4 linked regions of the Homo sapiens genome follow. The protein of the gene in region 1 interacts with the protein of each later gene in a pairwise test. Each region holds a gene or a part of one and is shown in the gene's direction. Other genes may lie near its edges. The genes, in order: TOX, DMRTB1, GRAP and KLK6.

The links.
Region 2: the proteins of TOX (region 1) and DMRTB1 interact in binary tests that used the Homo sapiens proteins (3 or more experiments, as listed by UniProt).
Region 3: the proteins of TOX (region 1) and GRAP interact in binary tests that used the Homo sapiens proteins (3 or more experiments, as listed by UniProt).
Region 4: the proteins of TOX (region 1) and KLK6 interact in binary tests that used the Homo sapiens proteins (3 or more experiments, as listed by UniProt).

Annotation. Positions count from the first base shown.
Region 1 is NC_000008.11:58,815,124-58,822,151, reverse strand, and holds part of TOX (thymocyte selection-associated high mobility group box protein TOX), read left to right. Parts: intron 1-6,427; coding exon 6,428-6,814; intron 6,815-7,028. UniProt on the Homo sapiens protein: Transcriptional regulator with a major role in neural stem cell commitment and corticogenesis as well as in lymphoid cell development and lymphoid tissue organogenesis.
Region 2 is NC_000001.11:53,462,396-53,468,013, forward strand, and holds the end of DMRTB1 (doublesex- and mab-3-related transcription factor B1), read left to right. Parts: intron 1-2,241; coding exon 2,242-2,452; intron 2,453-4,199; coding exon 4,200-4,267; 3' UTR 4,268-5,093; downstream 5,094-5,618.
Region 3 is NC_000017.11:19,043,936-19,051,719, reverse strand, and holds the start of GRAP (GRB2-related adapter protein), read left to right. Parts: upstream 1-4,762; 5' UTR 4,763-4,793; coding exon 4,794-4,871; intron 4,872-7,784. UniProt on the Homo sapiens protein: Couples signals from receptor and cytoplasmic tyrosine kinases to the Ras signaling pathway. Plays a role in the inner ear and in hearing.
Region 4 is NC_000019.10:50,959,577-50,966,604, reverse strand, and holds part of KLK6 (kallikrein-6 isoform A preproprotein), read left to right. Parts: intron 1-2,094; exon of another isoform or gene 2,095-2,177; intron 2,178-2,938; exon of another isoform or gene 2,939-3,049; intron 3,050-3,055; coding exon 3,056-3,303; intron 3,304-4,724; coding exon 4,725-4,861; intron 4,862-7,028. UniProt on the Homo sapiens protein: Serine protease which exhibits a preference for Arg over Lys in the substrate P1 position and for Ser or Pro in the P2 position.

The DNA of each region.
Region 1 (7,028 bases):
TGAACAGGGGACATTGCTAAACTCTTGAATTGTTAAACAACTTCTTTCCATAGAGAAACTTAAAAGCAGAAGCAAATGTTATAAATAAGGATTGGAGGCCTCTAAGGCAACTTCAACCTCTGCACTTTCATATGGAATCACAGGAAGCCTGTTCTAGGACATCTAAAAAGTGCCACCTCTATCATACTGGGAGAGTCCTCAGACTGAGGAGTCTGTAGTCTCTGGGGCGGGTGGATCTGGATTCGAATCCCAGGTTTCCCACTTCCTAACTGCATATCTTCATGCAGTTCCTTGTATGTTCTAAGTCTCCATTTACTCAAATGTTAAACAGAGAAGATAATAGGACCTACATCTTAGGGTTTCCATGAGGATAAAATAAGCAAATCTATACAAATTACATGGTTCACTTGAGGACATTATGCTAAATTAAATAAGTCAGTCACAGAAAGACATGTACTGCATGATTCCACTTATAGGAGGTATCTAGAATAGTCAATTTCATAGACTCAAAGAGTGGCACGGTGGTTGCCAGGGCTGGGAGAGGGGGAAATAGGGAGTCAATAATCAACAGGCAGAAAGCATTCCTCAAACCAGATGAATTAGCTCTGGAGATCTGCTGTACAACATTGGACCTAGAGTCAACAATACTGGATTGTACACTTGAAAATTTGTGAAGATGGTAGATCTCATGTTAAGTGTTCTTATCACAATACAATTAAAATTTTTAAAATTCAAAAATTTAAAAAATAAACAGCATGACTCAGCATCCTGAACATAGGAAGCACTTAATAAATATAAGCTATGAGTATTATTATTAATTTTATTTTTAGTATTAGTAGGTATAGAAAGGAGGGGGGAAAGATTTGCATATCATTGAAAATTTAGCTGGATGATATTTTCAATTTGTCTTTATATCAAAGGCTACTTTGATATAAGGAAATTTTAAAAGTGACATTAAAAAGGAAAATTTTGCATCATAGATGCATTTCTTTATAAAGATATGATCTAGATATAAACAAAAATGCATTCATCTATAGTTTTCTTAATTGAAATGATCTTTATGAACCCTGCAAAGAGGTCCAAGGATATATGCTATTATGGAGGCTTGGCCTTCCCATCTTAAGCAATTTTACACGCTATTGAAGGTCATATGGGGTTGGACTGTCAAATAAAGCTTAAGGAAATATAGTTTTTCCATAGACTCGGGAATTCCTAGACATGGATCTAAATTATTATGCTGAAAACAATGTATAACTATAGAGCAATGGAACTAGTTTCATTTTACCACATAGACCAGAATTTATATTCCCAAAATGAGTGTTGCATTCAAAGTAGTCACCTTGGGAGGCTGCAAACTCATTTTATTATTGCTCCCAGAGTTCAAAAAATTTTTGAAACTCCTCTTTTAGAACTGTAGTCAGGAAAAGTTTATGAGCCACATTAGAAAATCAATCTTGTTACATTGTTTTCACACCTCATTCTTTTCCCCAAACATCACCCAGATATAACCCGCAGACTTGGCTTCAAGTGACTATTAGCTGTTTCCAAAAATCAAATTCACCATCAAAAGACAAAGAGTTGTCTGAGGATATGTAAAACAGTGTCTCACAGGCTCTGAAGAGAATTCCAGTAGGGAAGCTCCCAAATATCCCAAATAAAGGCAGCATTATTGAAATAAGTGTACAACTTCTCAGGATTGCCAACCTGGAAGGATATGGCATTTGGATAACTATGTTCTGGTTTATTAAATAAAGGCAATCAGATTCATGATTTTAAGGTCATAACATCAAATATAAGATTTTGTTTCTACCTTAAGGAATAGTTCATGAAGTGCTAAAATTTATAAAGGACAAATGGAAACCTTTTTTTTTTTTAACGTACAGAACAGGACAATATTGAATTAAGTCAAGAAAGTTCTCTGTTTCCATAGTCAGTAGTAAAGAAGCACAATGCTTAGTTCAATTAAAGGAAAGTGGATTTGAAAAAAACAGTTTCTTTTTATAGAATGAGGCAAACTTACAGATACCATGCCATGGTGAGCTATGGAGACAAATATTGAGTCTGAATTTGCAAATGGGATGGATCATTGTATGACTGTTAACGTAAAATTTGCAGCTCTGTAAACCCAGATCGTGATTTAAAGATAATAAAATCTCATGCTTCAGGGTATAAGTTAATCACCTGCATGGAGCAGAAAGAATTTTCCTTCCAGAAGGAGCAATGCACAATTGAGTAGGTGCATAAATTTTGTTTAATTTTCAATGCATTAAGTATCGGTCAGTGCTGAAAACAAGAATCAAATTAGATGGACTATTAATTTGATTTGGTTCAGCAACTCTTATATTGTTCCTTCCACTGATTTTTATGCATTGTATTTATACTTTGCTATTTTAAATAACAATAGCTTTGTCAATCTTTCATTTTTATAGCACATATCATCCCAGAATGGGGAAATTTATACACTATGCAGTATTATCTTCATTATACAAAGTAAATGGGATTGAAGCTACCTTCAGTAATCAACAATTTGGTTAGTAAAAGGTATCTTCAGGCTTATAGAGTTGTATCCTTTATACATTTTGCATATGTCAAAGGAACTCCCTACAGATAATACTCAAAATGTCTCTATGGCCACGACCCCCACTTTATGGCTTGTAGAAAATATCTTCCAGAATCTGTCGTCTAAATGCAAATAGGAAAGAGAACATACTCAGAAACTAACAGCAAGAACACATTCCTTCTGTGAAAGTGTGGGATTCAAAGGTTGATTTTCAGTTGTCTACAAGCTAGGAAACACATTTGTCAGGTGACCAACATGACACTCATTGCTAAATAAAAGTGGTTAATGTGTTTAAAAGTGGAAACAAATGCAAATTACTTAGTATGTATGAGAAAATAGTTCTAATTTCTGAATGATAGGTATAGAAGTCTTCATATGCAATATAATTGATCAGCAAAATTGTAGCCTTGCTTTCACAGTTAAATTGGGAAAAAATGACAGTAAGAGTACATTATGATTTCTATGTATTTTCATTTAATCACATTATGAATTTATGGCAGTTTGCCACTGAAAATGAACTTATTCTACCTATCTTCCAGAACAATAAAATAACTCTGTAATTAATAGATGGTCTATTGTACTAGACTGCTTAATAATTAATGAAAAGCGAAGCCAGAAGCAGGTTTTTCCTCATCTAAATGAGTGGACCATTACATAAACATACAAATTCCCAAAGTATGGGTGAGACTGAACTAGCTGCCCTGCTACTGCCATTCCCCCAAGACCAGTGAGGCATAAAGGGCAGTGTATCTAACCAAAGGACAGAGCGGAAAGCTGTAATTTCTCATCACTTCAGGAAGGGTTTGGGTCCTGCCGAGAGCAGAGAAGAGCATGAGGAAGGTCAATCTAATACTCTGTGGCTTTTCCAAGCCTTCAGATCCTTCCTCACTCCATGGGAAGAGGAACGGTGTGTCTGGTCAAGAGGGCAAGTCAGCAAGGGCAATGGTGGCTGCCTGGAGGATTGCTCAAGAATAGTCATTCACTCCTTAGAAAACATAATTGTGTTTTTATGTATTTTGCACTATGGTAGATGCGTGGGCTACAGAAATTCAAGTCCCTACCATCAAAAAAAGATGCCCTTTTGGAGGAATCAGGACATCTTTGTGAAAAGAGACTACAGGAAAATAACTTATATTGGAGCACCTGCCACGTTCAGGCACAAGGCTGGATACGTTATTTCTGTTGTCACAGTCAATGATTAGAAAATAAAGGGAAAATATATATAACTTCCCCAAATTCTCCCTCCCTCTATGTTAAAAATTATGTTTCAAGTGTTGTCTGAATCATTATCTTTGGAACTCTATTTACTTTGAGTTTGCCAATAGTTATTCTAGTGATTAAAAGTTACTACTCTTTCAAAGTAGGTTGAGGGGGACTGGTCTTTGTGTGCTTTGATATGGAGGACATAAATGACAAATAAGTGGCTAGATAGAGAAAATGTTTTGTGTTTAATTATCCATGAAAAAAGAGAGCTTTACAAGGTTGGTAATAAAGTATCTCAAATTAGGTTGCTATCTGTTCACTTCTGTAAATCTGTACATCTATTCCATCTCTACCTCTGCTTATCTATCATCTCTCTATATGATGGACCACATACAATTATTTAAATAGTAGAATTCAGGAAAATTAAATTCATTGTTTATTTTGAATTCGATATTTTTATTTCTTTAGCCAAAACTTACCTCATTATCTAGTAATATGTTATATATAGAAATTAAAAATGAAAACATTTTTACAGTTACACATATTTTCTACTTTTGATCATACAAGAATGTGAGTGACTTGTATTATTTTTAAATTAAAAACAACACCTATAAAGCAAAAAATAAAGATGCACCAATATGTATCCATTTTTATAAATATGATTTCTTTCTGGTATGAAGTCAACACAGTCTGTGACTAAATATGAAACTAGCCCTTCTGCAATAGGCTAAAAAGAGGGAATTCAAACATACCGAACACTTTTCCAGATTACTTAAACACACAGACTTAACACATAATCTTTCTGGCATATACGGAATAATTTTTGAGGCATATGAATTGCAGTACATGTTATTCTGATGTGGAAGTAGTCACTGTTTACACAGGCTCGATTAACCCATTTGACCTTTTCCTTGAATTGTTAACTATTTTGCACATCAACAATAAGAATTTTTAAATGGAAGCCAAAAAAAATCTACTTAAAACTTGTTTTTTTTTTTTAATGAAAAGCACCTCTTAGGAGCTACATTTAATAAAGCTTCTTTGATCTAAAACCTCCCCTTAAAATTTTTGCATGAACAGTTTTTGATGTTTTTAATGTTAATACTGAAGACAGGGAGTCTATATGTTTGTTCCTATTTCAGAAAGCTGCATCAACAGTGTGACACAGGGGAAAATGTCAGAATGAGAGGACTCTCCAAAGGGGCTGGAATTATTTCAGTACACCTTACTTTATACTGTGCGTGGAGTATTCAGAGTCTCACAGGACCCCAGGTTTCCATGGTTTGGCATACTTTTACAGGTGTCAGATGTGTCCTTTCTATAATGACAGAACGTGGGGCTGATCGTCCACCCACCCCAGCCTGTCCCCGTCACCCCAGGAGTCAGCAGACATACACAGCATCATTCTTACTGTGGTTTTCATGAAACTTGACTGCATTATTGAAGACAAATGAGTTGTGTTGCTAACCGTAATGTAAGCTGCCTGGTGATAATGAAGCTACCCGGCCTGAGTTTCACGCTGTCGTGCATGATGAACCCGTTTCTCTAAGGGCCTGTCAGTGGGTTGCCCGGTGGTGCATTGAGCAGAAGGACCCCGAGAGCCCTCATGGCACAGTTCTCCCTGCAGTGTGGAAAGTAGTAAGAAACTCACTTTGACTTGAAAGCTGAATAAGCATGACATTGAGATTGCAGAGTAAAAGCATATATGCGTCCTCAAGACCTTGTTTTGACAAAGTGATTTTTTTTCTCCAATCCATTTTATCACTTTTTTCCTTCCAGTTGGTTCTACCTGCTACCTTTGGTTGTTTTATCAGTCTCTTCCTCTCAGGAAATGTAGGAGGTAGGTTCAGGCCCATGAGGAATTGCCACAGGGTTAATTCTTGATTCTTTTCAGCCTTTACTGAAATGTTCAGTTTTAAAATCAATTAAAATATTATTAGGAAATGATCATATGAAGGTGCGGAAAAAATTAGGGCAAAATTATATTAATTTATGATGGAGTCTAAAATTTCTAAGAGAGATTATTTTTATCTACTTCATTATGGAGGACAATTCATCACCAACTTCATTTTAAAACTCAGGATAAGTTCTGCAGTTACTTTGAAGAGTATATTAATGTAGTTTTATATGACTTCAGAAAGGTATTTTAGAACTCTGTTCTCCCATATCCATTTCCATCAACCAGCTTTGTTTTCTTTGTGCAAATATCTAGGCCAAGTCTCTTTGAGAATATAAAAAAGGAAAAATTAAAAACTAAACCTATAATCTATAGAAGAACTCCAGAACTGATTTGCTTTGAAAGTAATCTTCACGTGTGTTTCCCATTTGGGCATTCACGGCATCTGCCTTCTCCCGTCCCCCACCCTCCACAAACCCATCTTGTCACCCTCATTTGGATAATGAGAAAAGTCACCGAGTTAAAAACATTTAGGCAAAGGAACAAAATGTCATTGCAGATTGTTTTCAATTTCCTAAAAGGGATAGAAGCTGTCTTCTATAAATCACATTACAAATAATGGTGAAGAAATTCTTAGATCAGAGAGTCCGGGATAGTCATGGGTATGGATTCCAGGGAAGGTGCTTTAATAAACTCACAAAGCGTCATACCTTGAATCAACACTCATGTATCAGCCTCCCAACTCTGCTCATTTATTTCCTCAACAGAGCTACAGTGAACCTGTTGACGTGAAGACATCTCAACCTCCTCAGCTGATCAATTCGAAGCCGTCGGTGTTCCATGGGCCCAGCCAGGCCCACTCGGCCCTGTACCTAAGTTCCCACTATCACCAACAACCGGGAATGAATCCTCACCTAACTGCCATGCATCCTAGTCTCCCCAGGAACATAGCCCCCAAGCCGAATAACCAAATGCCAGTGACTGTCTCTATAGCAAACATGGCTGTGTCCCCTCCTCCTCCCCTCCAGATCAGCCCGCCTCTTCACCAGCATCTCAACATGCAGCAGCACCAGCCGCTCACCATGCAGCAGCCCCTTGGGAACCAGCTCCCCATGCAGGTCCAGTCTGCCTTACACTCACCCACCATGCAGCAAGTAAGTGCAATGGCTCTGGACTTAGAGTGTGCACCCCTATTCTGAAGTGTGGTGGTGGAGGTGGGGGGAGCTGTTTATCCAGGACAGGATTGGGGATATGTGTTTTCTATCCTTCTATTTAAGTCAAGAGAGCACTAAAGATATTCAACAAATATCTGCTTTCTGTAAAATGTAATTTACAAGTGGTGAGTTCGTGTGGCATTATGCCATCACA
Region 2 (5,618 bases), on another chromosome or scaffold:
GTCCAATGGGGCTCGAGCTTCACCCGGGCAGGTTGGGCACACAGGTCACTGGGTCCTCACTCCTGCTTCAGCCTGGCGGCAGCAGCTTCTCTTCCACTTATCTTAGATGTTGTGAGATTGTGCTTAAAAATCATTTTCCACTGATTCAAGGGAAGAAAGTTTGAAAGCCACTGGCCTTGATAATTCCAGGGTGTCTATTGAACCTTCAAGGCAGGTATTATACCCCATTGTAGCATCGAGAAAAAAAGGCTCAGAGAAGTTAAGTTTTTGGCCAGGGTCACAAAACTGGTGAGAGAGAGACTGGGATTCCAGTTACACAGCTGGTTGGTGACAGAGCCGGGTCGTGCACCTCAGTCGCCCTGACTCTGGAGCCCAGGTGCTTTCCACTGCCCTTCCCTCCCTCCCACAGAGGTAGAACACACATGGCCCTTGACTCACACCAGCACTGCTGCCTGCCTGACATCTGTGGGCACTGCCCAGGGAGAGCCAGGCATCTCCAGCCTCCACACAAAGAGAGGGGCTCTGGCCAAGTAAAGCACGTTCCGTCTGCTCACACAGAAGTCTGGAGCCTGGCGTCCAGGGCAGCGCTCTGATTGACAGGCCTGCCAGACGGCCTTTGTTAAGAGTGTGATCTCAGTCGGTTTATCTGGGCCTGAGCTGCCACCACAGGCCCCAGGCAGGAGCTGTGATCCAGGGAGATGCTTGGCTGAGAAGCTTGGAATTAAAGCACTAATAATCCCTCTTCCACCCTCTCAAGTCTGGAGAGAGAATCAGGCATTGATTTGTGAGCTGTTTCAAACCCAAGAGCCCCTGAATCACTTTCATCCTTGTCCTGCTGCCCCCTGCCAAGGCTTGGAGGTGCTCTCCAGAACAGTTTCCTCCTTCCTGTTCCTGTCCCTGCCCACCTGCTGCTGCTTGGCTTCCTCTGCCCTCCTGTTCACAGGACAGCACTGGCCCTGGAGGTGGGCAGACCTAGGGTCCAATTCTGCCTCCCCCGTCGTGTCCCAGCCACGTGACCCGTGGCAGTTATCTGACCTCTGAGGACCTCACTCGGGTCTTGGTCTGTAAAATGGGAGTGAGAGGACCTATCTATTAGGGCTCCTGAGAATAGATAAGGCGATGCATGTAAAATACCTAGCACAGGGTCTGGCACATAGTAGGTACTTAAAAGTGAGATTTCTTCCCTTCCTGCTGGTTGAACGAAGTTAGGAAGTGCTGGGTTAATCTAAGGAGATTTTTGCAGACTCTTCCAAGCCTTTAATATGCTCATGTGTGACCCACTAATGTGGGGAGCAGTATATGGGGTTTCTCAAACTCACTTAACAAAGAACACTTTTAAGAGTACTAAAAAATACTTTGTAGGACACCAGGACTCCATGAAACTCAGCTCAGGATGTGTTGCTCTGAAGCATCTGGATAGAGAAGTGAATGACAGGAACTACATCCAAAACTCAGTATTATTTCTTACGACATTTGTGTGTTTCTTGGTTAAGCTCTGAGTTGTGCAGTCATCCCCTCTCCAGATCCTCTGATGGGGCCCTGTGCTGTGGTAAGGGGTTGGATTCCATCCCTTGAAGAAGGGACAGAAGCAGCAAAATGTTCATCAGTGAGGCCACTTGCCTGAAGTCACCCAGTGTATCTTGCCTCAGAAACAGCTGCGCTACACCCACATTGCCAACCTCTTCTCCCAAAGGCCCCCCTGGCACTTGAGTTTAAGTCACCACATGTGCCAGACAGGGGGTCCTGTGGGGTTGGGATGCGTTCAGACCCTTCCCCAGTGCAGAGCAGCGCTGGACAGAAGTCAGCTGAGTGGGCTATGGAGTCAGCCAACTTGGGATCCAGTTCTGCCCCTTAACCACAAAGCAGCTCTGCGGCCCTGGGCCTGTAGCTTCATCTCACTGAACCTGTTTTTCATAATTACAGCAAGAATAGTAATAGAACCCACCGCCTAGGATTCTGAGCACCCAAGCACAATCGCCCTGGCATATACAGAAGGGCTCTGTCACTGTGACCGTTCAGCTGTTCCCATGCTTATCTGAGGTTGCCTGTGTTCCTTCTTGCCTTCAATAATTTGGCAGGTGTTTGCTGAATGCCCCCTTCCAAATGCCCTGTGCCTGTGTGTTTGGGGCCGTGCATCTACCCCATCAGGAGCCCCCCACTTCAGGGGTGAGAGCTATGTTTGGTCAGCCCATCTGGCTAACTCTCTCTCCTCTCCGCCTCTCTGCTGTGTGTGCCGTGCAGGTGTCAGAACCAGGAGGAGACTTCCAGCCAAGCTACTACCTGCCGCCGCCGCCGCCGCCACTGCCGCCCCTTCCACCGCTTCCACCGCAGCCCCAGTTCCTCCCGCCAGGCTACCTCTCTGCGCTCCACTTCCTCCCCCCGCCACCGCCACCACCACCTCCATCATCTTTCTCACTGACCGTCCTGTTTGATACTGACAAGGAGAACACTGGTGAGTGAGCTCCAGTCTTCCAGCTTCAGCGAGAGCCAGGGAGACTTTCTGGAGGAAGAGGTACCTAATCTGAAGAAAGGTTAGGTGTGGAGAGAAGGGACATGGAATTTAAAGGGTGTTGAGCCCTAGAATGAGCTCCTTCTTACACCCTTCCTCCAGTCCCCATAGGCACACATCTAAGGGAGGTGGGAATGGGATTCCAGGTGAGGAAACCAGGGCCTCCAGCAGTTCTCTTGGGTATAAATGGCAGAGCTGGGATTTGAACAGAGTTTTTCAGTCTAGCTCCCAGTCTAGTGCCTGTTCACTCACCTTATTGGCTCGTGGGCGGTGCTGTGGAAGACAGCAGGCATATGGTGTGTTTGGAAGACCAGAGGTGCCAGGCCTCTCTAGCTGGGGTAGGGGAGCAGATGGAGAGACTGGAGCAGCAGCAGGAACCCGTGTGGTGGGGCTGTGCCTCTGCCCCAGGCCACTCTGAGGGAACCAGACCAGGAGCTAGAGAATCTGTCCTTCACAAGCTCTGCCACTGGGGCACTGGATGATCCTGGGCACTGAGGCTTTTCAACTATAAAAGGGGCCCCCTTACTAGGTTACTGTGAGGGTCGAAGAAACTTTTGGATGTGAAAATGTTTTGGGTTTTCTTTTGAGGGCCCTTGCAGCTTTAAAGCTTCTAGGACATTTTTCCTTTCAGTCTTCCCCTGGGGCTCCTATGATTTGGAAAGAACTGACAAACTCAACTAGGCCTTTAAAATGACTGTCAGACCATCTTATGAGCTAGAGGAGTCTGGTGGTATCACCATTTTACTGAAGAGGAAACTGAGGCCTGTTGCACACTTCCTGTGTGTGCAGTGCCTAGATCCAGTAGCTGGAGAGGTGGTTTCATGTGGCTGAAAACCACTGGCCCCAGTGCTGGGTGGCCTGGGTGTGAGTCCTGGCTCCAGCACTTGCCCAGCTGTGTAACTTGAGCAAGCTCATTTACTCTTTGGTGCTCCAGTTTCATCATGTGTAAAAGGAGACTAATAATGGTCCCTACCTCATGAGGATTCTGAGGATTAAACAGAACCTGAAGTGATGAAGGCATTGGTGAAGGTGGCCTATCACTGTCTGTTTCACTTAGTGCCCATGCTGCCATTGCAAGGTGGATACGTCTCATTTTACAGAAGGGGAAGCTGAGGTTCAGAGCTGTGGAGTATCTTGCTAATTCCTCCCAGCTTGTGACGAGCAGAGCAAGAGCTGGAACTTGAATCTGAATCACATGGCCAAGGCTAGGATTCCAGGCTCCTGGCGCCTAACAAGTTAAAGAAAATACATTCTCCCCTAGGGCTGGGAATGATGAGAAAGGCTTATGGAAAATCTGTATCTGGGCTGGGCACAGTGACTCACACCTGTGATCCCAGCACTTTGGGGAGGGTGAGGTGGGTGGATCACCTGAGGTCAGGAGTTCAAGACCAGCCTGGCCAACATGGGGCAACCCTGTCTCTACTAAAAATACAAAAATTAACTGGGCATGTTGGCGGGTGCCTGTAATCCCAGCTACTCAGGAGGCCGAGGCAGGAGAATTGCTTGAACCTGGGAGGTGGAGGTTGCGGTGAGCTGAGATTACACCACTGCACTCCAGCCTGGGTGACAGAGCGAGACTCTGTCTCAAAAAAATTAAAATAAAATAAGAAAAAAGAAAATCTTCATCTGCAAATAGGTAGTTGTAATTTTCGCTCTTTCTAAATCCAGCTACCTTCTTTGTCCTTCACAGATGACCAGGATGCAGAGGTACTGTCGGGTGAGCCCAGCCAGCCATCGTCTCAGGAGCAGTCCGACTAGGCCCCAGGCCCGCCCTCCTGGCCAGCAGAGTGGGGCACTGGGGGGCAACAGCAACAGTTTTCTTGTCTTCATTCAGTGATATGTAGGGAGGAAGGAGGTTGATAGCATAGATGGCAACTGATTCCCAGTTTAAGATAGGAGGAAGGAGAGCAATTTCTAAGTTTCAATCCTGCGCTGTACAGTTGAAGAAGAGTGTGGAGGAAGCTATTACCAGGGGAGGGCCAGGGCTCTGAGGAGTGGGCGCTGGGAGAAGCTCCCATTTAGGAATGAATTTAACTGTCCTTGGGTTACACTACCATTTATTGGAACAAGCCCCAGAGGCAGTATTTGATTTCCTCAGGCCCCACTCTAGGACAGGAGGCACCATCTATTTCAGCCTTCTGCTGCCTTTGCCTGGTCCTCCAGGTTGCTGGGGGCACCACAGACATCAAGATTCCAGTTCATCCAGGTGGCTGGAGCCAGCAGCCAGGACCAGGGTCGTTGACAGCAGGTTCTGCAGCATCCTGCCTTGCTGCTCTGTCCCCCACATCTTCCTGGCCACAGCCCCTTGCCCCTCCTCTAAGGGGTTTTACTAGCAAGCATCCTGGCTGCTGGGGCTACTTCATTCCCCCTCCATAAAGTTTCAGCCATTATGGGCACTGGTTTTAAAAAATTTATTAGTTTGACTATTTGATGTTTTTATAGTGATTGCCAACTTTAAAAAGTAGGCTGTTCATAAGCACTGATGCAGTCCCTAGGGAATAGAATGGTGCTTCTGATCACCTGTGACATGAACAGTTTCTTCTGTGAGGACAGTTGGCTATTGAAATAAAATGAGCAATGGAAATCCTTGTGGAAGGCTTATTCTCCCTTTGATCCTGGTGGAAGGTAGGGTTGGCAGGAGCCTGAGTTGGGGAGATTGGGGGCCTTGGTTTGTGGCCTGTGGCTGGCCTTGTCTGCACTTGCTTAGTTCCTATTTTTAGTTCCTGCCCTCCCTGTTCTACCTCCCCTTTCTTTATCAAGTGAGGGGATTGGGCCAGGCTAGTAGACTTCTTTATTATTACTGTTGTTATTTTAAGCAATGGAGACCTTTTAAGGAAATCTGATGTAGACACACAAAATGTAAAGATGTCTTAGTTTCCTTCCTCCAGCTCCTTCCATAGTCCCTGCATAGGAACATGCATTTAAAAAAACAGAACTTGAACCAATTCTGTTTTAGGGTCCTCGGCTTCTTCCATTGGTTGCATTTATACCTTCATTTAGAAAACATCCTGTGTTTCTACTAGATTCAGAACTTGACAGTTCCCAGCTCTGCCCATGAGGAACATGACATCTAGTGGGAGAGACAGAGAGTCTTAGGGGATTCATACTA
Region 3 (7,784 bases), on another chromosome or scaffold:
GGGCCCCCAACTCTTGGCTACACTCATCCAGGACTTAGTCTCAGCAACAGGTGGCTGGGGGTAGAATAGGAAATGGATGTCCTGTTCTTCGTGGGAGGCAAGCCCTCCCACTGGGAGCTGGGGGCAGAGGGAGCCCTGTTTCCCTGGTCTGGAGGCAGCAGGGGACCCCATGTTCTTGGCTGCAGCTGTCCAGAGTGGAGTCTCAGCCTCACTGAGCTGAGAGGAAGGGCAAGAGGGGCCATGATCTCAGTGCAAACACCATGGCCTCACCTTTTTAAACCAAATATTCATAGATGTTCATGAATCCATGTTTCTTCATTTGCATTTTCTTTTTTTTTTTCCAGACAAAGTCTCGCTCTGTCCTCAGAGGCAGGAGTACAATGGTGTGATCATAGCTCACTATCACCTTGAAATCCAGGACCGAAACGATCCTCCCACCTCAGCCTCCTGAGTAGCTGGGATTACAGGTGAGAGCCACCATGCCTGGCCTATTTTTGTTGTTGTTTATTTTTGTAGAGATGGGTTCTCACTATGTTGTCCAGGCTGGTCTTGAACTCCTGGGTTCAAGCATTCCTCCTGCTCCAGCTTCCCAAAGTGCTGGGATTACAGGTGTGAGCCACCATGCCTGGCCTGTTTCTTCATTTTCTTTTCTTTCTTTCTTTCTTTTTTTTTTTTTTTTCTGAGACAGAGTCTCCCTCTGTCACCCAGGCTGGAGTGCAGTGGCACGATCTCTGCTCACTGCAATCTCCACCTCCCAGGTTCAAGTGATTCTATTTCCAAGTAGCTGGGACTACAGGCGTGCGCCACCATGCCTGGCCAATTTTTGTATTTCAAGTAGACACAGGGAGGCGGAGGTTGCAGTGAGCTGAGATCATGCCACTGCACTCTAGTTCAGGCAACAAAAGCAAAACTCTGTCTCAAAAAAATTTTTTTTCAGGGAGTTCTCTCAGGTGTTTCAGCCAATCTCTGATGATAAAAAGTTCCCCAATCAGCCTGTTTGGAGTGTTCCAGGGTCCAGTAGTCTAGCCCAGTCTACTAATTACAGAACTCAAACTGCATTGAAATTGCAGTTTCCATCCAATCTCACGACCCTTAACATAATCGCACCGGCAAAGTCCCTCTTGTCATATAAGGGAACGTTCCAAGTTCTTGAGATCAGGACCTGGATGTCTTCGGGGCTGTTACTCAGCTGATCACAGGGGGTTAGGGTTTCAGCACTGAGACAGTGGCTGGGTCTGCCCTGGCCTGGTGTGGCCTGTGGCCAGTGATGAGTTTTCCTCCTGTGAGCAGCTTTTGAGGGACCTCCATAAACCAAAACCAAAATCCTAAGCCCCTTAACCATCCAAATGGACTCCTTCTCTCGGCAAGGGCATTCCAAAGTTAACCTGAAAATGAGTTCAGGATATGATGGGAAGGGGGAGCTGGACATGCCTTGTTATAACCTCCTCGCTTTTGGAATTACTGTTAGAACGGACTCTTTCAGTCTGATAAGAAACATTTACACTATATTCTCTCTGAAGCCAGCTACCTGGAGGCTTCATCTGCATAATAAAACCTTGGTTTCCAAAACTCCTTATTTTGTTGTTTTTTTGTTTTTTTTTTTTTTTGAGATAGGGTTTCTCTTTTGTTGCCCAGGCTGGAGTATAATGGGGTGATCTCGGCTCACTGCAACCTCCGCCTCCTGGGTTCAAGCAATTCTCCTGCCTCAGCTTCCCAAGTAGCTGGGATTACAGGCGTGCGCCACCACTCCCGGCTAATTTTGTATATACATTTTTTGAGATGGAGTTTCACTCTTGTCGCCCAGGCTGGAGTGCAGTGGCATGATCTTGGCTCACTGCAACTTCCGTCTCCTGGGTTCAAGTGATTCTCCTGCCTCAGCCTCCCAAATAGCTGGGATTATAGGCACTCGCCACCACGCCTAGCTAATTTTTTATTTTTAGTAGAGACGGGGTTTCACTATGTTGGCCAGGCTGGTCTCAAACTCCTAACCTCAGGTGATCCACCTGCCTCGGCCTCCCAAAGTGCTGGGATTGCAGATGTGAGCCACCGTGCCCAGCCTAATTTTGTATTTTTGGTAGAGACAGGGTTTCACCATGTTGGTCAGGCTGGTCTCGAACTCCTGGCCTCAAGTGATCTGCCTGCCTTGACCTCCCAAAGTGCTGGGATTACAGGCATGAGCCACCGCGCCTGGCCCAAGCCTCCAGTTTCCGATGGCCCCTCGTTCCAGGCCCCAGCGTCTGCCTCATTTGGGGTGCTGCATTCTTCAAGGGTCCTCTCAGTCAAGTCCCATTTGTGGGGTCCTCTCTGGTCTCCCGGAATCAGGGCAGATTTACCCTCCAACAAAGCTTTGCTGCTTACCTCACTGCACTCCTTGAGCTCACTGTACAGTAGGCAGCCCAGGCTCCCAGCTCTGGCCCGAGCCACCTTGGGCAGGAATCCTTCGGGTTGAGGCCATGCGGCGAAGGAGTTGTAGGCATGGTTTGGCCCTCAGGCCTGCCTGGGTTTGAACCCCAGCCCTGCCACCTACCAACTATTGGTCACTTACCTCTTTGTAAAGGACTTGGCAGAGAATAAATACTTCTAAAACACATAAAAATAAACCCGGCATCTGTCCCACCGCCCCAGGGGACACCCATTCAGCTTCATAAGGGGAAGTCCTCCTCCCCTCATATGGCTAGAAGCACCTCAGAACTGAGGCGGGGGCCGATCCCAACCCCTCCATTGCATCATTCTGAGGCTTTGAAACCTCAGCTGCAACAGAGCCGGAAAGAGGGGCCTTATAACATCCTGTCACCCTTGGGGTCGGGGGCAGCCAGAAGGCAGGGGTCTTTGAGTAGAGGGCAGCGTGGAGAAGCCCTGGAATGGAGCTGGGTGAGGCCAGGGCCAGCTCCATCCTGCCTGGTTGGCTCAGGGACTCCAGAGTGGGCGGCGGGCAGCTGTCATCTTCTCTTCTTCCCTCTCAACTATTTTTTTTTTTTTTTTTGAGATGGAGTCTTGATGTGTCACCCAGGCTAGAGTGCAATGGTGCGATCTCGGCTCACTGCAACTTCCATCTCCCAGGTTCAAGCGATTCTTCTATTATTGGCCAGAAGGTCAGGGTGTGTTCATAGAATGATGGGTCCATGTCAAAAGGATAAGGAGACAGCTTGAAGGAGACCCCACTGGCCTAATCAGGGGCATTTTAAGCATCAAAATAAATGTAATAGTAATGGATTATAATCCACTGGCTAAAATATGAAACCATGAGCCTATATTAATATAAATGAAGGAAGAAAAACTTCTTTACAGAAAAAAAACAATGTGACTTCACACTGATTCATCCAGTGTCCATGCAACACCACAGGGCTCTGCCTGGTTTTCCTTCCACGTCTGTGTCTCCCTTCTTTCCCAGGGAGAACCCTGGTTCCAAACAATACAGCTGTGCTTGTCCATTTGTGCGCTATCCTGCAACACTTGCAAAACAGTTTCAGAATTGCTACACCGATAACACTGCTCATAACAAACCCACTAAGGAAAGGTAGAGATTTATTTACAATTCTCTTTTTTTTTTTTTTTTTTTTGAGAAGGAGACTCGCTCTGTCACCCAGGCTGGAGTGCAATGGCGCAATCTCAGGCAGGAGGATCGCTTGAGTCCAGGAATTCAAGACCAGCCTTGGTAACATGGTGAAAACCCATCTCTACTAAAAATACAAATAATTAGCCAGACATGGTGGTGGGCACCTGTAGTCCGAGCTACTCTGGAGGCTGAGGTGGGAGGATTGCTTGGAGCCTGGATGGATCCTTGGCTCACTGCAGCCTCTGCCTCCCGGGTTCAAGCGATTCTTGTGCCTCAGCCTTCCCAGTAGCTGGGATTACAGGCACATGCCACCATGCCAGGCTAATTTTTTGTATTTTTATTAGAGATGAGGCTTCACCATGTTGGCCAGGCTGATCTCGAACTCCTGACCTCCAGTGATCCGCCCATCTTGGCCTCTCAAAGTGCTGGGATTATAGGCATGAGCCATCGCGCCCGACCTACAAGTCTTGTTGACCTTAGGATTTAAGTCCCACCTAAGGTGCCCAGTGTCTAAACCAGAAGAGGTACCTTCTGAGCTGGTCTTTGATGGATGAATAGGAGTCTCCTGGGAGCAGAAAGAGGAGAACACCAGGCAGAGGAACCACGTGTGCAAAAGTCTGGGGTTGAAATGAGAGTTTGGTGTGGCCCCTTGCTGTGGCTGAAGCCCTGGGTTTGTTTAGAGTGAAGGGGATGACAAAGGATGAGAATGGGGGCTGTTTGTAGGGGCAGGTGGAGGTGGTGGATTGCAAGGGCCTTGAATGCCAGGTGAGGAGCTTGGGATTGAAGGAGCAGGAGGCAGGGCATCACAAGAGGCATCAGGGTTTAGGAAAAGATGGAGAGTCATTGGCAGATTGGTGAAGGGAGGCCAGCATCTGGTGCCATGAGACTCAGTGCCTGAGCCAGCAGGACAGCTTTGGCACTTCTCCTCCAGGCACCTCACTTTTACGGATGATAAAACATGGGCACAAGGGGGCCCCACTCCCAGAGCTTCAGGGAGACTCCCCAAGGGCCATTCCTGGCACCTGGGGTCTGAGGTAGGGACAGAGCTGGCTCACAAGCCCTCCCTGCTCTGTGACATGTCTGTTTCCTGTTTCTCCCCCATCAGGAGCAGTTTCAGTCTCAACTTCAAAAGAACAAACGCGCACTCAAAACAAAGGAAGACCGTCCTCGACTGCAGAGGAAGCAGGAAGCTGTCGGCCCAGCTCTGAGCCCAGCTGCTGGAGCCCCGAGCAGCGGCATGGAGTCCGTGGCCCTGTACAGCTTTCAGGCTACAGAGAGCGACGAGCTGGCCTTCAACAAGGGAGACACACTCAAGGTAGGGGGGCTGGAGCCTGCTGAGTTGGCCCCACACGGGGTGGGGGTGGATTTAGGAACCAGGGACCTGGGACTGTCCCAAGCAGACTGTGGCCCCTGGAAGACAGGCCCAGCCTCTCCAGTTATTGGCTGTGTGACTCTGGACAAGCCACCTTTTCCCTCGGAGCCTCAGATTCTCCATCTAGGAAATGGGGAGATAACTAATGACCCTCCTTTGGGGCTGTTGTGAGGATTCGATGAGATATTACCACAGTGTCTGGCAGGAGTTAGTTCAACCCCCAGTTTTCCAGGAAAAAGTTTGAAAAGAAAATTGTTGAGAGAGGGAGAGAATGAGAGCTAGAGAGAGAGACAGAGTATGGGAATGGAGAACAGAGCGAGAAAGAGGGAGAGAGAGAAGGTCTTAGGAAAGAAATAAGTACACATGCTAACCTAGTAGGGCTAAAATAGCTAAGATGAAAGTGTCAAGGATGAGCTTCCCAGTAGTGTGGAGAAAAGGGAAAATAGAGTCATACCACCGTTCATTTCTCCTTGTCTGGGCCGCTTTTGACAGATGTTGCAGCCTTCCAAGACGGTCTAGACAGTTGGGCCTGTGGAATGTGTCTCTGGAAATGTCCTTGCTTAAAAGTTTGCATATGAAAGCCATGCCCAGGATTCTGGGAGTGGCCATGCCAAGACGTGTGCACTGGAACTGCCAGTAAACCACACTAGGGAAGTGACTGCCCTTCCCTGGGCCTCAGTTTCCCCACTGGAGCAATGGGTGTTAGACTGGATGCTCCTCTGCGCTGAGCCCTGGGCGCTGCCCTTGGCCACAAGCTTCAAGCACAAGACGGGAGAGCTCCCTGTGCCATCACCCTGCTATAGCCAGGCCCCGAACTCAGCAGCACACCTCATGTACCATTTAAGCAATGGGGACTGGCACCCCCATTTCACAGGTGACTAAACTGAGGCACAGGGAGGCAACATGACCTGCTCGGTATGGAGTCAGTTTTGAACCCGTGTCCCTTTGGCTGTGGAACTTGCGCTTGGTCTGAACAGGCTGGGCTGGGGGTTGGGGTCCAGAGGAGGAGGAGCAATTCCTTCTTCTCTATGCTGGGGTGCTGGTGCTGGCACCTGGGGTCACTGCAGTGCTGGCTGTCGGCCTCGTGGACATGTGGCCAGATGGGGACAGGGCCAGGCTGAGCACTGGGGCTGTGAGCCCAAGGCATGACCCTCTGCGGGGATCCAAGTCTTGGTTTCTCATCTGAGAGCACTTCGAGGTCTCTAGACCCAAGTGTGGTGTTGGGAGGGAGTGGGGCAGTGATGAAATAGGAATGGGGTGCGCGGGAGGCGTTGAGCCAGGCTTGGAGGGATCAAGTGGCTGGGGTGGAAGCTGAGCTCCGCGACCATCCTGTCCTCTCGTCTAGCAAGTATTTTCCAGTGCTCCCTGTGGGCCAGCCCCTGCCATGGCACTGCCTGCCTACAGATTGAGTCCAGCCTGGGAGAGTGGGCGATGAAGCCCGTTCTTGAAATCTGAACTTTGGTCTTGGATGAAAACTCTGGCTCATGGACTCACCCTGGACAAATGGCCCCAAACATCACCTCCCTGGGACAAAGCCTCCCTCCCTGATAGGCCAGGCGTTTCTGGGTGCACGCACCCCCATGCTGTTGCCAGCTGGAGGGGCATGTGGTTAGTGGCTTCACTCCCATCTCTGCACGAGCAGCCTGGATGATGAGACCCAGACTCAGGAAGCCCATGTCACCTTGACATCTCCATGGGAAAGGGCGACGGTCCAGACCCAACACAGCCAGCCCTGGGCTCCCTGAACCTACTTTCTGCTGCCTGTCATTGTCTTGTCGGCAACTCTGGCAAAACCTACCCGAAGCCCCTCCTCCAGCCCAGGCCTCCATTGTCACTTACCTGGGCTTGCGTGGTGGCTCCCAAGGCCTCCCCGCAACAATCCCTGCTCCCCAGCCCAGTCTCCATGCAGTGGCCATGACTCAGAGCCTGGTCCTCCCCCGTACATCTTATGACATCTGCTCCTCCCTCCCTCAGCTCCAGACACCCTGGCCTCCTTTCTGTTTCAGGGACAGAGCTTGGCCCCACCTCAGAGCCTTGGCACTGGCTGTTCCGTCCGTCTTGGACACTGTTCCCCACATTTTCTTACCGCTGGTTCCTTCTTGTAATTCGGGTCTCAGCTTCCATGTCACTTCTTCAGAGAGGCCTTTCTGGACCACCCCACCTGTCCCGTGTTGACAATCTCCCTGCTCCCACCCAACCAGACATTCTCCATCTGTCACCTGATGTCCATTTTTCACAGCGCTTACTGCTCCATTAAACTACCTTGCTTATTTGTTTCTTCCCTTGTTTATGGTCTGTCTCTGCCTACTAGAATGTGAGCTTCTTGTTCCCTGCTCTGTCGTGGGGTGCCTGGCACACAGTAGGTGCTCAGTAAACAACTATCAAGCAGCAACTGCATCGGGCTGGGATGGTAAAGTGGGGCGGCAGCCTGGGTGGAGGGCACCATGTGGGCAAAGGCTCAGGGGCAGGCCAAGTTCTGCCTCTCACCTTGAGCAGTGATACTCCTCCAGGGAGGAGTTGGCCTCTCTCCCTTGTGAGAATTCCCGGGTCTCAGAGGGTCTGGGGCTTTCAAACAATGTTCACAGTAAGAAATCAGTTAACGTGAGGTCAAGAGATCGAGACCAGCCTGGCCAACATGGTGAAACCCCATCTCTACTAAAAATACAAAAATTTAGCTGGGCGTGGTGGCACACACCTGTAGTCCCAGCTACTCGGGAGGCTGAGGCAGGAGAATCGCTTGAACCCAGGAGGCAGAGGTTGCAGTGAGCTGAGATTGCGCCACTGCACTCCAGCCTGGTGACAGAGTGAGACTCCATCTCAAAAAGAAAAAAAAAAAGAAAAAAGAAAAAGAAATTA
Region 4 (7,028 bases), on another chromosome or scaffold:
GGTCTCGAACTCCTGACCTCAGGTGATCCGCCCGCCTCGCCCTCCCAAAGAGCTGGGATTACAGGCATGAGCCACCACCACACCCAGCCTGATTTACATTTTTACAAGCACCCTGGCTACCACGTGGAACGTGGTCTGGGCAAGAGAGAGGGAGGGAGGCCCACGTGGGGGCTGTTGCTTTCATCCGGCGACATAGGAGGGTGGCTTGAACCCAGGCGGTCGCAGTGGGGATGGAGGGATGTTGAATATCTTGGGATGTGGAATTCTGAGACTGAGCCAGCAGAATCTGGCAACGAGGAACAGGAGGGAGAGGAAGAAGCACGGCTGGCTTCCGTGTATTTGTCCTGAACAACTGGGTGTTTTGCCACGTCTTTCTCTGAGTTGTGGGAGAGGGAAAGAGAAACAGGCCGGGTGTAGGCAGGGGAGCATCTGACATTTTGCTTTAGCCACGATGAGTTGGAGATGCCGGGGAGATGTCCCAGCAGGGAGGCCAGGGAGGACTCTGGAGCTCAGAGGAGAGGTCAGGGCTGGAGGTTAAAATGAAGGCATCGTCAGCAAACAGGTGTATTTAAAGCCATGGGACTAGATGAGATCATCCAAAAAGCTGGCATAGTTGGAGGAGCTGGAGGGCCCAGGACAAAAACCCTGGGCGCTGATCCTCACTAGTCAGATTCACGACAGCTGCCACTTGTTTGATGCTAACTACCAATCAGGTGCTGAGTGAAACCATGTACACACCTTTCCTGGAATGCCCACCACAAGGGACTCTTGGCACCATTTTGCAAATGAGGAAACTGAGGTGCAGGGAAATAGCAAGTGACAATCCCTGGGGTGGTTCCCCTGACCCCAAGGAGACCTTGGATGACTCTCACCACCATCATTCATTCCTTTGATGTACATTGACTAAGAGCACCTGCTAAGTGCCACATTCGAGTTGGGCAGTGGAGATTCAGCAATGGATGGGACACACACGTCATCCCTGCCCTCGGGAGCACAAGGACAGAAAGGTGCAGACAAGCAAAGTGAGGGCTGGGCATGGTGGCTCACGCCTGTAATCCCAGCACTTTGGGAGGCCGAGGTGGGTGGATTACCTGAGTTCGAGACCAGCTTGGCCAACATGGCTCAACCCTGTCTCTACTGAAAATACAAAAAATTAGCCAGGCGTGGTGGTGGGCTTCTGTAATTCCAGCAACTTGGGAGGCTAAGGCAGGAGAATTGCTTGAACGTGGGAGGCGGAGGTTGCAGTGAGCCGAGATCGCGCCACTGCACTCCAGCCTGAACCACAGAGCGAGACTCTGTCTAAAAAAAAAAAAAGGAAAGAAAGAAGCAGCAAATTGGGCTGGCCGTGGTGGCTCATGCCTGTAATCCCAGCACTTTGGGAGGCCGAGGCGGGTGGATCACTCGAGCCCAGGAGTACAAAGCTGCAGTGAGCTGTGATCTACAGAACACCACTGCAGATCCAGCCTGGGTGACAGAGCGAGACCCTGTCTCAAAAAAACAAACAAACAAAAGAAGCAAACCCTTCAAAACCCCATATAATTACAAATTATGAAGGAAAAGAATACGGGTACCTACTTTAGATGGAGGAGGGTCAGGAAGGACTTTCTAATGAGATAAAATCCAAGCGGAGGCATGAAGATGGGAAAAGGAATGTTCAGGGCAGAGGAAAGGCTGTGATAACACCCCTGAGGTGAGAACCGTCTTGAGTATTCTCAGAAAATAAAATTTCCCGTTCACTGGGGGGCAGAAGGTGCTGGGAGATAAGGTTGGAAAGTGACTACAGCCAGATCACACAGGGGCTCCAGTGCCAAGTGGAGGAGCCCAGGCTTTATTCTTAGGACAATGGGGAGCCATGGGTGATGTCTGAGCAAGGGAGTGACTCTCTGTTTCAGGAATATGTATCAAACACCTATCCTGTGCCAGGTGCTGATCAACGCACTGGAGATACTATATCTGAATAGAACAAAAATCCCCATCTTGACATCCTAGAGCTGCACTGTCTAATATGGTAGCCATCAGCCACATATAGCAAATTACATTGAAATTAATGAAATGGAAAATCCACAAGCCACATTTCAAGTACTCAGCAGCCACCTGTAGCTTGTGGTTCCCCCAGCCACCTCTGGACAGTGCAGATCGAGATCATGGCATCGTAGCATTTAGTGGACAGCATTGCTCTGCAAGGAGGAGAAATAACACAATGAGTAAATATTTAACAATAAATATATAGCAGGTCGGATGATTGTGATAGGTTCTCTGGTGGAACAGAAAGCAGGGGAGGGAGATAGGAATTGCCTACTAACAGGTATTTGTATTTTAATTGGGCAACTAAGGAAGGCTTCCCTGAGAGGCGACATTTAAAGGAAGTGAGGGAGTGAGCTATGCAGATACTTGGAGGACAGACTTGCTGGCAGAGGGAACAGCAGTGCAAAGGCCCTGAGGTGGGAAGATCACTATTGTGTTCAAGGCAAGACAGGGAAGCCAGCGTTTGGCTGGAGCAGAGGGAGAGAAGGGGAGAGTGGGAGGAGAAGATGTCTGTGAGATGATGGGGCAGTGCTTGCAAGGCCTGGTGTGCCACGTTGAGAACTTTGGCTTTGATTCTGAGTGAGATGGGAGTCATAGGAGGGGCTGAGCAGAGGAGGCACAGGACCAACTTACATTGTTAAAATATCTCTGGTTGCTTTGTGGAGGATGGACTGTGGGGGACCAGAGACAGAGCAGGGAGCCCAGTGAGGAGGCTACTGCTCTAGTTCAGGTAGGAAGTGAAAAGGCAGCTCAAACCAAGATGGTAGCCGTGGGAAAGGTGAGATGTGGCCAGATTCTGGATATGCTTCAGAGAGGCAAAAGGAATTCTGGACAGCTTGGATGTAGGGCATGAAATAAAGAGAGTGAAGAATAGCCCCCAAGATTATTCTGAAAGGATGGAATTGCCATTTACCCAGCTGGGGAAGACTGTGGGAGGAGCAGGCCAGCGATTCATGACTTCCCAGCCCTCTCTGAAGCCTCAACTGCAGCCCAAGGGCTCCAGGTGAGACCCAGCCCTCTTCCTTCCCAGGAATCTTCAGGTCTTCCTGGGGAAGCATAACCTTCGGCAAAGGGAGAGTTCCCAGGAGCAGAGTTCTGTTGTCCGGGCTGTGATCCACCCTGACTATGATGCCGCCAGCCATGACCAGGACATCATGCTGTTGCGCCTGGCACGCCCAGCCAAACTCTCTGAACTCATCCAGCCCCTTCCCCTGGAGAGGGACTGCTCAGCCAACACCACCAGCTGCCACATCCTGGGCTGGGGCAAGACAGCAGATGGTCAGTAGTGGGAGGCTGGTGGGGAGCAGGCTACTGGCTACTTGGGGAAGTGTGCCAAAGGATGGGGAGTGGGAAAATTGGTGAGGGGCCATGGGAAGATGGGCTAATGGTGAGGACCAATGGGACAGGGTTTCAATGGGAGAAAGGTCAAGGGGGAGGGAGAGTGAATTTGGGAGCTGGGCCAGTGAGTGAACAGCCAATGGAAAATGTAGACCAATGGGTGAATAGCATGGGAGAGATGGAACATAAGATGAAGGTTCAATAAAGAGGGAAGGTCAGTGGGGAGATGCTAATCAGGAAGGATGTCAAAGGTCAAAGGGGACTGATCAGGATTCATTGAACAGCAGGAAGGAATAATGGAGAAGGAACTGATGGAAGAAGAGAAACCAATAAAGCACAAAAGCCAACTGAAGGATGTGAATTGAGACAGTGAATGGGGGTATAGCTGATGGAAGAGGGACTAAGGGGAAAGGATCAATGGTCCAGAGGAGTCACTAGAGGAAAAAACAGGTCCAATAGATCAGCAGGATCCATGAAGGTGGGCCTGTGTGTGAAGGGCCAATAAGAAAGGTGAACCATTGGATGAAGGGCCAGTGGGAAGGCAGAGACAATGGGGGAGGATGCGGCAAGTTAGAAAAGGACCAATGAGGGAGGTGGACCATTGGATGAAGGGCTAATAGGAAGGGAGAGCCAGTGGGGGATGGTGAGGCCAGTTAGAAAAGGACCAAGGAGGGAAGCAGACCAATAGGAAGAGAGAGCCAATGAGGGAGGGCAGGGCCAGTTAGGAAAGGACCAATGAGGAAGGTAGACCATTGGAGGAAGGGCCAATAGAAAGGGAGGATCCATGAGGGAGGGTGGGGACAGTTAGAAAAGGACCAATGATGGAGGTGGACCATTGGATGAAGAACCAATAGAAAGGAAGAACCAATGGGAGAGGGCATGGCCAGTTAGGAAAAGACCAATGGTCACAGAGTGACCAATCAAGATGAATCAATGGGCAGGAAGTGTCCAATGAAGAATGGACTACTGATCAGGAGGGGTACAGTAGAGGAGGGCGTAACAGAGGAAGAGTCCTCCAGGTCAACTGAAACTACTGAAGAAGGTGGGACCAGTGGAAGAGAGAAAAGTGGAGGAGGGACCTAAGAGAAAAGGAAAACCAATAGGAAATGAGGACTCCTGGAGAAGAGACTATTAATGAGGAAGACAGCCAATGGGGGGGAAGAATGATAGAAAGAGGGACCAATTAGGAGGCAGGGACGATGGTAATGAGATGTAAGAATGAGAGACAAACAGGAAGAGGGGTGCCAATAGAAAAGAGGGACCAATAGAGGATGGAGGACTTATAGGGGTTGGGGGGTGACTGGGGAGGATGAGGGGAGTGCAAGGCCTGGGCTGAGTCTGGCCCATCTCTCCCCTAACAGGTGATTTCCCTGACACCATCCAGTGTGCATACATCCACCTGGTGTCCCGTGAGGAGTGTGAGCATGCCTACCCTGGCCAGATCACCCAGAACATGTTGTGTGCTGGGGATGAGAAGTACGGGAAGGATTCCTGCCAGGTGAGGTGACCCGGATCTGCCACTTACACAGCCAGGGACAGGACGAAGTCACAAAAACATGGCCAGACACAGGAAGAGAGAGACACAGGCCAAAAGAGAGCTTTACAGAGACAGATAGAGACAGGCTGAGGGAGAACCCAAGCCTTGAAAAGAAGAGACTTAGTTCAACACACAGAGACACAGTCAGGGATATGCAGAGATATAAAGACACAGCCAGCAGAGACAGGAAGTGCAGAGACAAGGATGGAGGCCGCGGGATCAAGAACCAGAGAGGCCAGGAGCAGCGGCTCATGCCTGTAATCCCGGCACTTTGGGAGGCCGAAGCAGGAGGATCACCTAGGGTCAGGAGTTCGAGACCAGCCTGATCAACATGGTGAAACCCTATCTCTACTAAAAATACAAAAATTAGGATGGGCACAGTGGCTCATGCCTGTAATCCCAGCACCTTGGGAGGCCGAAGCAGGAGGATCACCTGGGGTCAGGAGTTCGAGACCAGCCTGATCAACATGGTGAAACCCTATCTCTACTAAAAATACAAAAATTAGGATGGGCACAGTGGCTCATGCCTGTAATCCCAGCACCTTGGGAGGCCGAAGCAGGAGGATCACCTGGGGTCAGGAGTTCGAGACCAGCCTGATCAACATGGTGAAACCCTATCTCTACTAAAAATACAAAAATTAGGATGGGCACAGTGGCTCATGCCTGTAATCCCAGCACCTTGGGAGGCCGAGGTGGGTGAATAACCAGGTCAAGAGATTGAGACCAGCCTGGCCGATATGGGGAAACCTCATCTCTACTAAAAATACAAAAATTAGCTGGGCGTGGTGGCAGGCGCCTGTAGTCCCAGCTACTCAGGAGGCTGTGGCAGGAGAATCACTTGAACCTGGAGGCGGAGGTTGTTGCAGTGAGTCGAGATCATGCTACTGCACTCCAGCCTGGCAACAGAGCAAGATTCCGTCTCAAAAAAAAACCAAAAAACAAAAATTACGCAAGCATGGTGGGACACACCTGTAGTCCCAGCTACTCGGGAGGCTGAGGCTGGAGAATTGCTTAAACCCAGGAGGCAGAGGCTGCAGTGAGCTGAGATCACGCCACTGCACTCCAGCCTGGGGACAGAGCCAGACTCTGTCTAAAAACAAAAAGAACCAAAGAGAAGTAGTAAGGAAGCAGATGGTGTGAGGGGACTGTCCTTCCTCAAACAGAGCCCCCACGAGTCCTGCTCAGAAACGACCAGGCTCTGGAGGAGGGAGACACTAGCTGGGGAAAGGGGACTCCCTCCCGAATACTTTAACTTGGGTTTCCTCCATTGTCATCCATCCAGGCTCTCCTCTTTATGCCAGAATGACTAATGCACTGAGGGATGTGCAGAGACCAACCAAGGGGGAGACACAGGCAGAAACGGAGACACAGGCAGAAACAGGGACAGAGACAGGGAAAGCGATACATAGCAAGTTGGACGCAAAGAAAGGGCAGGTGGGCGAGACTGTCCTCAAGACACGAGGTGGAGAGGTGTCCCTGGACAGAATAGTGCCAGGCATATCTCTCCCTGGGCCCTCCCTACCTCTCCCACCTGGGTCTTATCGTCTCCTCCTCCCCCTCCTCCCCCTCCCCATCCTCCTCCCCCTCTCCATCCTCCTCCCCCTCCCCATCCTCCTCCCCCTCCTCCTCCCCCTCCTCCTCCCCCCTCCTCTCCCTCCTCCTCCTCGTCTTCCCCCTCCTCCTCCTCCTTCTCCTCTTCCTTCTCCTCTTCCTCCTCCTCGTTCTCCTCTTCCTCCTCCTCCTCTTCCTCCTCCCCCTTTTCCTCCTCCTCCTTTTCCTCCTCTTCTCCTCCTCTTCCTTCTCCTCCTCCTCTTCCTCCTCCTCCTCTTCCTCCTCCTCCTCTTCCTCCTCCTCTTCTTCCTCCTTCTTCTCCTCTTCCTCCTCCTCTTCCTCCTCCTCCTTCTCCTCTTCCTCCTCCTCTTCCTCCTCCTCCTCCTTCTCCTCTTCCTCCTCCTCTTCCTCCTCCTCCTCTTCCTCCTCCTCTTCCTCCTCTCCTTCTCCTCTTCCTCCTCCTTCTCCTCTTCCTCCTCCTCTCTCTCCATCGGTCTCTACACCTCTGCCTCTCTCCACACCTCTCAGTCTCCATTCTTAAATTGTTTCTCTTTCTTGCTCTCTATGTTCCTCTGCA